Linked DNA regions of Homo sapiens. The protein of the gene in region 3 purifies or fractionates together with the protein of the main gene of each other region. This does not show direct contact. Each region holds a gene or a part of one and is shown on either strand. Other genes may lie near its edges. The genes, in order: RBKS, SHPK and PSMF1.

Region 1 (3,652 bases), on a different chromosome or scaffold from region 3:
CTGTTGAAGCTAAATGATAGTATATATAGGTTTACCATACTATTCTCTGTATGTCTATATATATTTGAAATTTTCCACAATAAAAGCAAATTTTAAGGAAAAAATTACATTAAAATTTAGGTACCAATTGCTAGAATAAGGAATTCCATAATTTTACTGTAAATACTGTATAAAAATCAACCTTATTTGCCTGTACTTTACTGAGGGACAGCATTCTTCAATAGTAACTGGATACATAGGCTTAGAGTCTGACTGGTAACTAAATTTAGGGGAAAAGTGTAAATGCCATAAAGAAAGCATTCTTCTCAGCTTGTGCTACCACAAATGAGCATACTCCACCATGATGAAAGAAACATAAATTAGTAGATGCAGTTAATCAAAGAAGAATGCAAATCTGTAATAGACAAGGTGGAAGCCATGATGTCATCCTGGGACCAGGCAGAGCTAGAGAACACAGACTGTACCATGGAGTAACTTGGAGTTGCAGAGGTGACTGGTAGCACCCAACAGTAATTATTATTAATTACAGTGTCAGATGAACTAAACTCCTAGTTATCTTAACTGCATGTTAATGGATAGCACAATAATGTCAATAAGGAACTGGTGAGGCCTGGAGGAGCAGTTGTATAGGCTAAAAGGCAGGAAAATGAGGCAGAAACTCTTTATGGTGTTGTCACGGAGGGCAGGGGCTGGACAGTTAGGAAGGCCCTAATTATTAGCTCAGAGAAACCGGGGAAGAAAATCACCCTGAGTGAAGACACTGTGAGCATGTTGGGACACTCAAAATACTGGCTTTGCTGTCCATTACTCTAGAGGCTCTTTTCTGTGACTTGAGCAGCAAAAACACTCAAAGCTTGGGCTATGTGCTGGACAATGTCATTGTGAAAGTCTGGATGGCCAGATAAGAAGTTTTGTTTGCCAAAGGCAAAAGGACTGAAGTGGCATTAAAAGATACTTTGTATCATACTGATAATTTAACTTTGGCAATTTTACAATCTCAATTATTTATAATTGTTTATGTACTGTTCCATTTGCTTGGAAATGGATATAAAGACCAGAACCAACATGCATAATTTCATCACAAGCAGCTGCAGCACTGGCTCTTCAGTGGGCCTACCTCATAGCTTCATGGCCTGGTGGGGATGGGGGTGGCTATACAGGGCTACCGATTTTTGGTGTTGTAGCTACTATGTCTTTAAAAATCAATGCTTTCATTTTGATAGCGACAGAGAGTTTTGAGACAGTATATTCAAAGATGTAGGGATCTTTTCCTCTGGATTTTCATAACTGATATATTAGCATAATCTAGTTATGCAATGTGCTTAATTCAAAATTCACTACCTGTAAGCAGTAAAGATAATGGAACTGTGATAAGAAAACCCATAGATGATGATGACGATGAAGACTTTATCATCGTTCTTGAAGACGGAATAATGCTGTTCAGCACATAGGCAGCTTCCTGGGGCAGTGGGTAGGGTGCTCAGTGCTCAAGAGATCATTAAGCCCACTCTGCTCTGGGATCAGTCCAAAGTGACATGAAAGAACTGTGAGAGCTGTCAGCCCAATTCTGGTTTCACAGAAGAAGAAAATGACGTCCAGAGTGAGGAACTGACTTACTTGACTGAGATCCCCCATTTGCTGATTGATTATGAATTTAAAGCCATATTTCACAATTCCCAAACCAATGGTCTCCTTTCATTATACCACTCTTCTTCTTTTTTTTTTTTTTTTTGAGATGGAGTCTCGCTCTGTCACCCAGGCTGGAGTGGAGTGGCGCGATCTCAGCTCACTGCAAGTTCCGCCTCCTGGGTTCACACCATTCTCCTGCCTCAGCCTCCCGAGTAGCTGGGACTACAGGCACCCACCACCATGCCCGGCTAATTTTTTTGTATTTTGAGTAGAGATGGGGTTTCACCGTGTTAGCCAGGATGGTCTCGATCTCTTGACCTCATGATCCACCCACCTCGGCCTCCCAAAGTGCTGGGATACCACTCTTCTTGCATATGAGAATGATGATGCATTACACACACACACACACACACACACACACGCGCGCGCGCACACACACACACACACACACACACACACACCCTCCTCATGGAATAGAATCTAAGCTGCATCTGGCCGGTATCTACCAAATAGGGACCAGCTGACTTGGCCAGAGAAAGCCACCGGACTGGAGGAGTAATGGACACATGAGTGTGTGTGCTTGTGTGCATGTGTGTTCGTGTGTGTGTGTGTAAGTTCTATTGGGGTTACAGTGCTGAAAACACTGTAGAGCCTCTTCTCTGTTTCTTGAGCAGCAAAAACACATAAAGCTTAGGCCACGTGCTGGACAGTGTTAAAATTTATGGACTTGACTTTTCTAGAGATACTCTTCATAAAGGCTCAGTTTGTTGGAATCAATGGGTTGTGGCACTTTAAAGTGTGGTTTAAACTAGGAGACAGAACTTGGGTCTTAGAGTCTGAAATCATGGTTTCTTCAACTTAAAGTGCGACACTGTTTGAACAAATGACTTAACCTCTCAGTCTCAGTCTTCTCACCTTTAATCTGAGAGAACAATGCCTGCCATATCTTTGTCATAAGGTTTTTCTGAGGGTAAAATGTGTACGAAAGTACTTTATAAGATGTAAAGTACATATAAATGCATGGTATTACTATTTCTGCTATTATTATATAAGGAAGTTCATGCAGAATTAATACCAAGGCATGCTGGCTCTTAATAAAAGTGTGAAGTAGGCCAAGTGGTCTGTGGCCCACTGTCACCTACCCCGCTTCCTGCTGTCCTGGGTCCTCCAGCTCCCAACTGGAAGAGCTACACGGAAGGTGATGGAGGAAGCCTTTCTGGACCCCACCCAATGACAGCCCCAGGGTAGGCTGCCTGCCCATCCGGATTACTCTATTCTCACCTGTGAAAGGTTAGCTCCTCAACTGTGGCTGCTGTATCTTTCTCTCCTTCACAAGCAGGGTAGGTAACAGGCAACTAGACTAGGACAGAGGGAACAGTGATCTCTGAGCAGTAAGGGATAGTAGGAAAAAAAGAGAAGTTACACGAGAATGTGCTTTGATCTATACAAAGAAAGACAAGAGCAGGAGCAGGGTGGCACCCTGTATTCACATCACTCTGCTGAGATGGGCACGGTGCAGAGAATGCGTAACCATAAGCATTAGACTTTACTGTGACACTCCAAGAAAATGGAACCAAATGGGTTTTGGCTTAGAATTCTTTCTGACAGCTTCATGTCCATTAAAAATACACTAAATGTCAGGGAAAATTTACCACAGCATGTTGTTTTGCCAAGAGGAAAATTTGTTAAATCAGGACGAACATTTTAAAATTCTCCACAAAATCATTTCAGTGACTTATTTTCCATTTATTTCTATGTAGAACACTACACACTTTGGGAGAAATCACTTATATAAACACACACACACACACACACACACACACACACTGTTCTTTTTCTTTTTTCTTTTTAGTTTTGTATCTTGAGAAATAGTCAGTGTGGTTCTCTATTTTATTCTTTAAAAAAATCACAGAACTATTGCCACAATATCAAGAAGTCATCATGTTAGAGTGGCTACTATTTATTTTGATTTTTTTCACCAAATGATGCTTGATCAGGATATTATCCTAACTTTAAAGAGAGA
Region 2 (3,652 bases), on a different chromosome or scaffold from region 3:
TCTGTCCCCCAGGCTGGAGTGCCGTGGTGCAATCTCGGCTCACCGCAACCTCCGCCTCCCAGGTTCAAGTGATTCTCCTGCCTCAGCCTCCAGAGTAGCTGGGATTACAGGCGCACTCCACCACGCCCAGCTAATTTTTGTATTTTTAGTAGAGATGGGGTTTCGCCATGTTGCCCAGGCTGGTCTCGAACTCCTGACCTCAGGTGATTCACCCGCCTCAGCCTCCCAAAGTGCTGGGATTACAGGCATGAGCCACCGCGCCTGGCTCTCTAAGTTTAAGTATTAAAGAGTGAAAGCTGTACTCTGAAACCTACAGACTGGGCTCATGGTCACAGAGAAGGGAGAGCCCACCTGGGGTCTGGGCGGCTGTGGAGGAGCAGGACAGCATGGCTGAGGCCCCTACCCAAGGGCTCAGGGCTGTGCTTACACTGGGCCCATCCATGCCCCGTGTCTGGGACAGGCCAGGGGCACTGGACCCTGATCCTGGCCTCTGGGAACCCTCCACCACTCCCAGATGGGAAAGCACCCACTGAAGCACTGGCTCCGGGGTTGCCCTTCAGATTGGAGCAGGAGGAACAGCCTGCAAGGATGTGATACTCACGTCTCTACGTTCCAGCTTTGGCTCTGCGTGTTGAAATAGCCCCAGCTGGCAGCATTCTGGTCGGACATCAGAGGTCTTGGCAAGCCACACAGCATGGCAACCACATAGTCGTGGATGGTACCGGCTGCGTCGTAGGACTTCAGGAACTCTGGGCTGTTTTTCATACCAAAAACAACCAACACGGTATAACATGAACTCGGAAGCATGTGCCGCACCTAGCTGCAGGCAGCAGGGACCAGCTGTGCCATGGCCAGGTGGCAGCCACAACCGCATATACTATGGCTCAAGTCCAGCTGGGTCCCTGGGATTAGGACCTCCCAGCTGCCCCAAGCAAAGCCAGCCTAAGTCAGCCCCAGGGGAAGGGCCTGAGAGGAGGAAGTGTCAAGCCTGGAAAAGCAGACGTCAGCCTCCTCAGCAGCCTCGCAGGCCTGAACACACTGCGAACTCTCCCCGTGACCCTCGGCAAGTCACTTGCCCTCTCTGTTCCCTCCTTTCCCTATGTGGGTGGGAACTGGATAACCAATAGAGAGCCCTCTGCAAAAGGACGTGGTTCTGGACCCAATCGAGGTCCAGGCCATGCTGCATCCTGTCCTGCCAGGACACACTCACTGCGGCACAGCCCAGCAGGCGGGGTGATGCTGACGCAGCCCCGGCCTATTCTCATTCTCCCGGAAACCCAGCACCCGAGTGAAAGTGCAGTTGCCCGTACCGATATTTCAAAAGCCAGAAGATGGTTGCACAGCCGAAGCCCGTGGCCACACTGAGATGAGACTTCGGCTGGGGCAGAGAGGCCAGGAATTCGCTGCTACATCGGCCATCCTGCCACGTGACCAGGTGGCTAACAGCTCGGGGCTCGAACACCGGGGTAATCCCTCCCTCTGTCCATTCACAGCCTGGAACAAAAGAGATGACCAAAAATGAAGAAAAGAGCAAATGACTAGGCATGGCGCGGCCTTGATACTACTCTGCTGGTGAGTGACAAAATATGTGCGAATCGTCCCATGATAAAGCCTGGCACACCTATGGGTCCTGATAGCACTGGCTTTAGTACTTGGCTCTACCACATAATGACTGTGGGACCCTGGGCACGTCACATACTCCCTCCATTTGCCCCACTTCTCTGTTTGTTTTTATTCTTTTTTGAAGTTGATATCATATCTCCCCACATCTCAGAAGATGTTTGGCACAATCTCAAGTCCCCTGGTCTCTGTCCCTCCAACCCTCATCATGACATTATCTAGGCTTACTGCTACTTGATTACCAGTAAATTTTCTCTTTTCCTTAGTTCTTAGCTGATTGCGTTTTATTTTATTTTATTTTATTTTAATTTTTTCAGACAGAGTCTCATTGTGTCCCCCAGGTTGGAATGCAGTGGCATGATCCCGGCTCACTGCAACCTCCATCTCCCAGGTTCAAGCGATTCTCCTGCTTCAGCCTCCCGAGTAGCTGAGACTACAGGCCCACGCCACCACGCCCAGCTAATTTTTTGGACTTTCAGTAGAGACAGGGTTTCATCATGCTGCCCAGGCTGGTCTCGAACTCCTGAGCTCAGGCAATCCACCCACCTCAGCCTCCCAAAGTGCTAGGATTACAGGCATGAGCCACCGCACCTGGCCCTGATTGATTTTTAGACATCCAAATTTACTTTAAAATCATCTGACCGTCAGATTTTTTTTCATTTGTGCCTTGTGACATCCTCTGGATTTTTCTCTGCCCTTATTCAGTGATTTCTCCCAAGGCCAATTTCAGTGTCAGTCTTTCCAGGCAGTGTCTGAAGGCCCAGATGCCACCAAATATTTCTCATGTTCCCATCTTTAAATGCCAGTTTGATTAGTTATAATAGTCTGGTTCTAAGTTCCTTCCCTTCAATGCTTAAAAGCACTTTTTGTGGTCGATTGTTGCAAATTCTTCACTACTCCTCCCATTAAGAGGTGGCATCTGAATCCTCTTTCCTTGAATATAGAATCACCTTGGTGACGTGCTTGACCAGGAGAATGTGGAGGCAGTCACATCTTGGGACTCCCAAGGCTAGGTCATAAGAAGTACTGCAGCTCCCGCCCAAGCCTCTTACACCAGTCTCTCTGGGGGAATCAGCCTTCAGGTAAGAAGTGCGACTACGCCGAGGCCGCCATGCTGAGGAGACCACGGGCAAAGAGCAGCCGGCAGACCGTTTCCAGGTGAGCCCAGCCTCCAGCCTTCCCACCAAGGTACCAGGCATTGAGTAAAGCCACCGTGACCCCCTGGACCAGTCTGTCCACCAGTTGAACACTAACAAGCAACCTCCACCACCACCATGCAGAAGCAGCAGTGGGCTGAGCCCTGCCCAACCCCTGACCCAAAAAATCATGACAGATGATAAATGCTTGTTGCTTTCAGTCACTAGGTTGGAGGTAGTTTGTTGTGCCGCAATAGGTCATCAAAATACTACTCCTGGTCAGGCACGGTGGCTCACGCCTATAATCCCAGCACTTCGGGAGGCCAAGGTGGGCGGATCACCTGAGGTGAGGAGTTCGAGACCAGCCTGGACAACATGGCGAAACCCCATCTCTACAAAAAATACAAAAATTAGCCAGGTGTGGTAGCGGGTGCCTGTAATCCCAGCTACTCCGGAGGCTGAGGCAGGAGAATCGCTTGAACCCAGTAGGCGGAGGTTGCAGTGAGCTGAGATCGCACCACTGCACTCCAGCCTGGGCAACAGAGTGAGGCTCCATCTCAGAAAAACAAAACAAACAAAAAAATGCTACTCCATTGTCTTTTCACACAGAATGCTGCTGTTGAAAAAAATCTAATGTCAATCTGATCCTTATTCTTTCATATGGGATCTGATCTTTTGCTCTGTAAGCTTTTGGAATTCTGTCTTTGAAATCCTTAAAAGTTCACTAGAATATATCTAGCTGGGGGTTGTCTTTATCTCCTCTTTGACATTCTATGGGCCCTTTCAGGCTGGGGTGTTCTATCTTATGTTGTCAATTATAGGAAATTTTTCTCCATTATTTCTTCAAAGATTTCCTCCTCTCCATTTTTATTTTTCCCTTTCTGGTCTCTTATGAT
Region 3 (3,652 bases):
GTGTATTCGGATCTGTGTTTTTAGTCAACACCTTGGTAATCCTATTGAAGTTAGCCTAACGTCCAAACTTTGAAAAACACTACTTAGAACTTCGCAGTGTTCCTCAAGATGACTGGCTTTATTCTTAGCAGTGGGATGGGGAAGAGATAATTATTAAACCAACACTGCAGATTCTTGACAGGTTCCAGTGCTGTGTCAGAAAGGTAGCTCAATATGAGGGAGAGCGCAGTAGAACAGAAGCCCAGAGACCTGGGCCCTAGACCTCTCTCTCGCTGTAGGATCTTGGGCAAGTCATTTCTCTTGACCTCCACATCTTCATCTGTGAAGTGAGGTGGGTAAGATTAGCTTATCTCGTGAGGTTCTTTATAGTTCTGTGTTTTGAGTTCATGATCTTTCTCCTCTCAACTGTGGTCTTCCCAGCCGGGTCCCAATGATAAGAAGTCAGAACTGCTGCCAGCTGGGTGGAACAACAATAAAGACCTGTATGTCCTCCGGTATGAGTATAAGGATGGGTCCAGAAAGCTCCTTGTGAAAGCCATCACCGTGGAGAGCAGCATGATCCTCAATGTGCTGGTGAGTCTCTGGGACACGTGAGTCTGCTGATGAGATGGGGATAGGAATGGCTGTTTTGAAACCCATTTAACGGTACGAATCCAGAGCTTCAATGTTCATGTAGCCCTTACCTAGTGATCCCACTTCTGGAACTTTATCTTAAGGTGAGAACCCTAAGTATAGAAAACCTTCGTGCACAAAGGTATCCACCACCTGGAATTAAGAAGGAGGGGCTTTCTGTCAACAGGGGAATGGTTAAATAAGGTAAATCTATTCAGTGACAAGATAGAAGGGAAAAACTTAGGTAACCCCAATGGGCTACTTCAGTTCCTTAAATAAATTGAATTCTTTGCTGCCTTGGAGCCCTTGCACTTTACATTTCCTATGCTGGAAGGCTCTTCCCCTCCCCCATCTGCCACTCACACAGCCCTTCACCATTCCTTCATCCTGGACAATTCTCTTTCATTTTTGACTTCCTCAAAAATTTCAGTTCTGACTACCCAGTCCTACTCCCCAAAAAAATCTAAATTATGTCTCTTTACGCCATCATTTTATTTTCCTGCCTGACACTCATTGCAGCTTGTAATTGTGTACTTATTTGTGCTTTGCTTTTATTCTGCCATGGGACTATAAGTGCCACAAGGACAGTGACTTTCCTTTTGTTAACTTTTTTCTTAGTGGTTTGGGTGTGACCATGTAGAAGTATCCTGCTGTATGTATTATACTGCACTTTGCTTTTTTTTCACTCGGTGTTTTGGAGGCAAGACCTTGACATGGAAATACATATAGATATACCTTATTTGTTTTAACTATTATATAGTTTCTCATAGCACCATAATTTCTTTATTCCTTTCCCTTTTGATGAACATTTAGATCTCGTGTCAGATAGGGTTCTTGGTTTCAAACAACAAAAACCTCTTGGGTTAGTTTAAGCAAAAAGGGTTTATTAAAAGAACCAGGATCACCCAGGCGCAGTGGCTCGCACCTGTAATCCCAGCACTTTGGGAGGCTAAGGCAGGTGGATCACTTGAGGTCAGGAGTTTGAGACCAGCCTGGTCAATATGGTGAAACCCTGTCTCTACTAAAAATATTTTTAAACCTTAGCCGGGCGTGGTCGTGGGTGCCTGTAATCCCAGCTACTTGGGAGGCTGAGGCAGGAGCATCCCTTGAACCCAAGAGGCAGAGTTTGCTGTGAGCTGAGATCGTGCCACTGAACTCCAGCCTGGGCAATAGAGCAAGCCTCTGTCTCAAAACAAAACAAAACAAAAAGAACCAGGATAGCTCATTGAAACAGGTTTAAGGCTAGGTTTCCAGAAGCAGTGTCCCAAATCATGCCCCGGAAACCACTGCTGCCACCACCACTGCCCAGTATTAGATACTGGCTGATTCTGTCTGCCCTGGTGCACCCTTCTCTTAAGCTGCTGATGTGACCCCCTGGCCTCTGTGCTACCCTCATTAGCAAGATGTCTGCCCCTTGCTGGGTCTGCATCTCCGTGTTGCTCACCTGCAGATCAAAGTTGATGCATCAGTTCAACACCTCAATTACCATGCCTGAGCCCTTTTGCAAAAGAGCCTGGGAAGTAGGTGTTTTAGTCTCTGCCTTGGAAAGGCAATATTCCTAAATCAGAGAAGTCTCCAAGCCTTAGGAAGGTATTTCATATAAACAGTCCTTATATATGTCTCTGTGGACATATGTGAATATTTCTTTAGGTTGAAGACTTTGTTACTCTCCCTTCACCCTCCCACTCTTAGCCAGAAATATCCCAGTCTCTCACTTTCTATTTTCACCCATCTAGGAATATGGCTCACAGCAAGTGGCAGACTTGACCCTGAACTTGGATGATTATATCGATGCAGAACACCTGGGTGACTTCCACAGGTACTTCTAAATGATGTCTCTTCCCTGGGAAAAAGAAGAGAGAACTAATGGCAAGATATGAGGAATAGGGTGGATGTGTCCAGAAAATTAAGGAAGGTGAATGGAAGAACCTTTTATTTCTGGGCACAACTTCCTAATTTTCTTTTCTGTTTTTTATGTATTTGAAGAGGAGACTTCCATAGGAAATGCCACATGAAACAAGATGGTGCAGTCAAGAGTCCACAAGTGCAGTGGTGGCTGCAGAGTAGAGGTGGAGCCCGGGCAACTCATTCAGTCAGAGCAGACTCCTGGGAGGATGTGTGCCTCATTGGGTCCCCAACCCCAATCTCCAACTTATTTAAAAAAAAATTATTTTCTTTAGGGTCGTTTTAGGTACAAGCAAAATTGAGCAGAAAGTGCAGAGCATTCCCATATTACCTCCTGCTCCCATACACCCACAGTTTACAGCTTCCCTGTGTCAATATCCCATACATAATGATTCATTTGTTACAACTAATGAGTCTACATTGACACATCATTATTAGGGCTCAAGCTTGCTGTTGTGCAGTCTGTGGGTTTTGACAAACAGATGAGAATGTGTGTCTATCATAGTATCACACAGAATAGTTTGACTACCCTAAAAATCTGTGCTTCTCCTATTCTTCACTCCCTTTTCCCTAACTGCTGGCAACCACTGATCTTTTGACTGTCTCCATAGTTTTGCCTTTTCTAGAGTGTCACATAGTTGGTATCATACAGTAGTATGATTCTAGACCTTTTCAGCAGATAGAGCTAGGAAAATTTTTCCTTATAAGTTTAAATTGCCACCTCTGTTTTTAATATAACACTACAGGATTCTTTTTCTCTTATTCCATACTTATATCTCCCTTCTCCTGTGGTGAGAACCCTGATTCCCAGCAGCATCAATGTATTTACTTATTTATTTGATCCTAGAATACACACAAATATTTTCTGAATTGCTACATCAGTGCCTACCAAGAACAAACCTATTAAGTAAAGTTCCAAATGACTTATTTCCAGTTCTTTTTGTCTTTTAACTATGTTCCACAAAAGATGTAGGCAGAGTAGTGTGTTCCAAAGGTACTTAGATTAGTGCTTGTTTTTAAAATCAGTATAATGAAATTATCTGTTTTATATATAGTTAAGCTGATTTATGTCTGCTTTATTCCATTATAGGGATTTTCCCCCCATCTTCATTGACCTCCTCAGGGTTTTATTTTT

Evidence for each region.
Region 1: the proteins of PSMF1 (region 3) and RBKS fractionate together in Homo sapiens (co-fractionation; one large-scale study listed by BioGRID). This does not show direct contact.
Region 2: the proteins of PSMF1 (region 3) and SHPK purify together in Homo sapiens (affinity purification with mass spectrometry; one large-scale study listed by BioGRID and IntAct). This does not show direct contact.

The regions. Positions count from the first base shown.
Region 1 is NC_000002.12:27,838,306-27,841,957, forward strand, and holds part of RBKS (ribokinase), read right to left. Parts: intron 1-3,652. UniProt on the Homo sapiens protein: Catalyzes the phosphorylation of ribose at O-5 in a reaction requiring ATP and magnesium. The resulting D-ribose-5-phosphate can then be used either for sythesis of nucleotides, histidine, and tryptophan, or as a component of the pentose phosphate pathway.
Region 2 is NC_000017.11:3,622,738-3,626,389, forward strand, and holds part of SHPK (sedoheptulokinase), read right to left. Parts: intron 1,495-3,652; coding exon 1,311-1,494; intron 755-1,310; coding exon 602-754; intron 1-601. UniProt on the Homo sapiens protein: Acts as a modulator of macrophage activation through control of glucose metabolism.
Region 3 is NC_000020.11:1,125,078-1,128,729, forward strand, and holds part of PSMF1 (proteasome inhibitor PI31 subunit), read left to right. Parts: intron 1-420; coding exon 421-573; intron 574-2,348; coding exon 2,349-2,431; intron 2,432-3,652. UniProt on the Homo sapiens protein: Plays an important role in control of proteasome function. Inhibits the hydrolysis of protein and peptide substrates by the 20S proteasome. Also inhibits the activation of the proteasome by the proteasome regulatory proteins PA700 and PA28.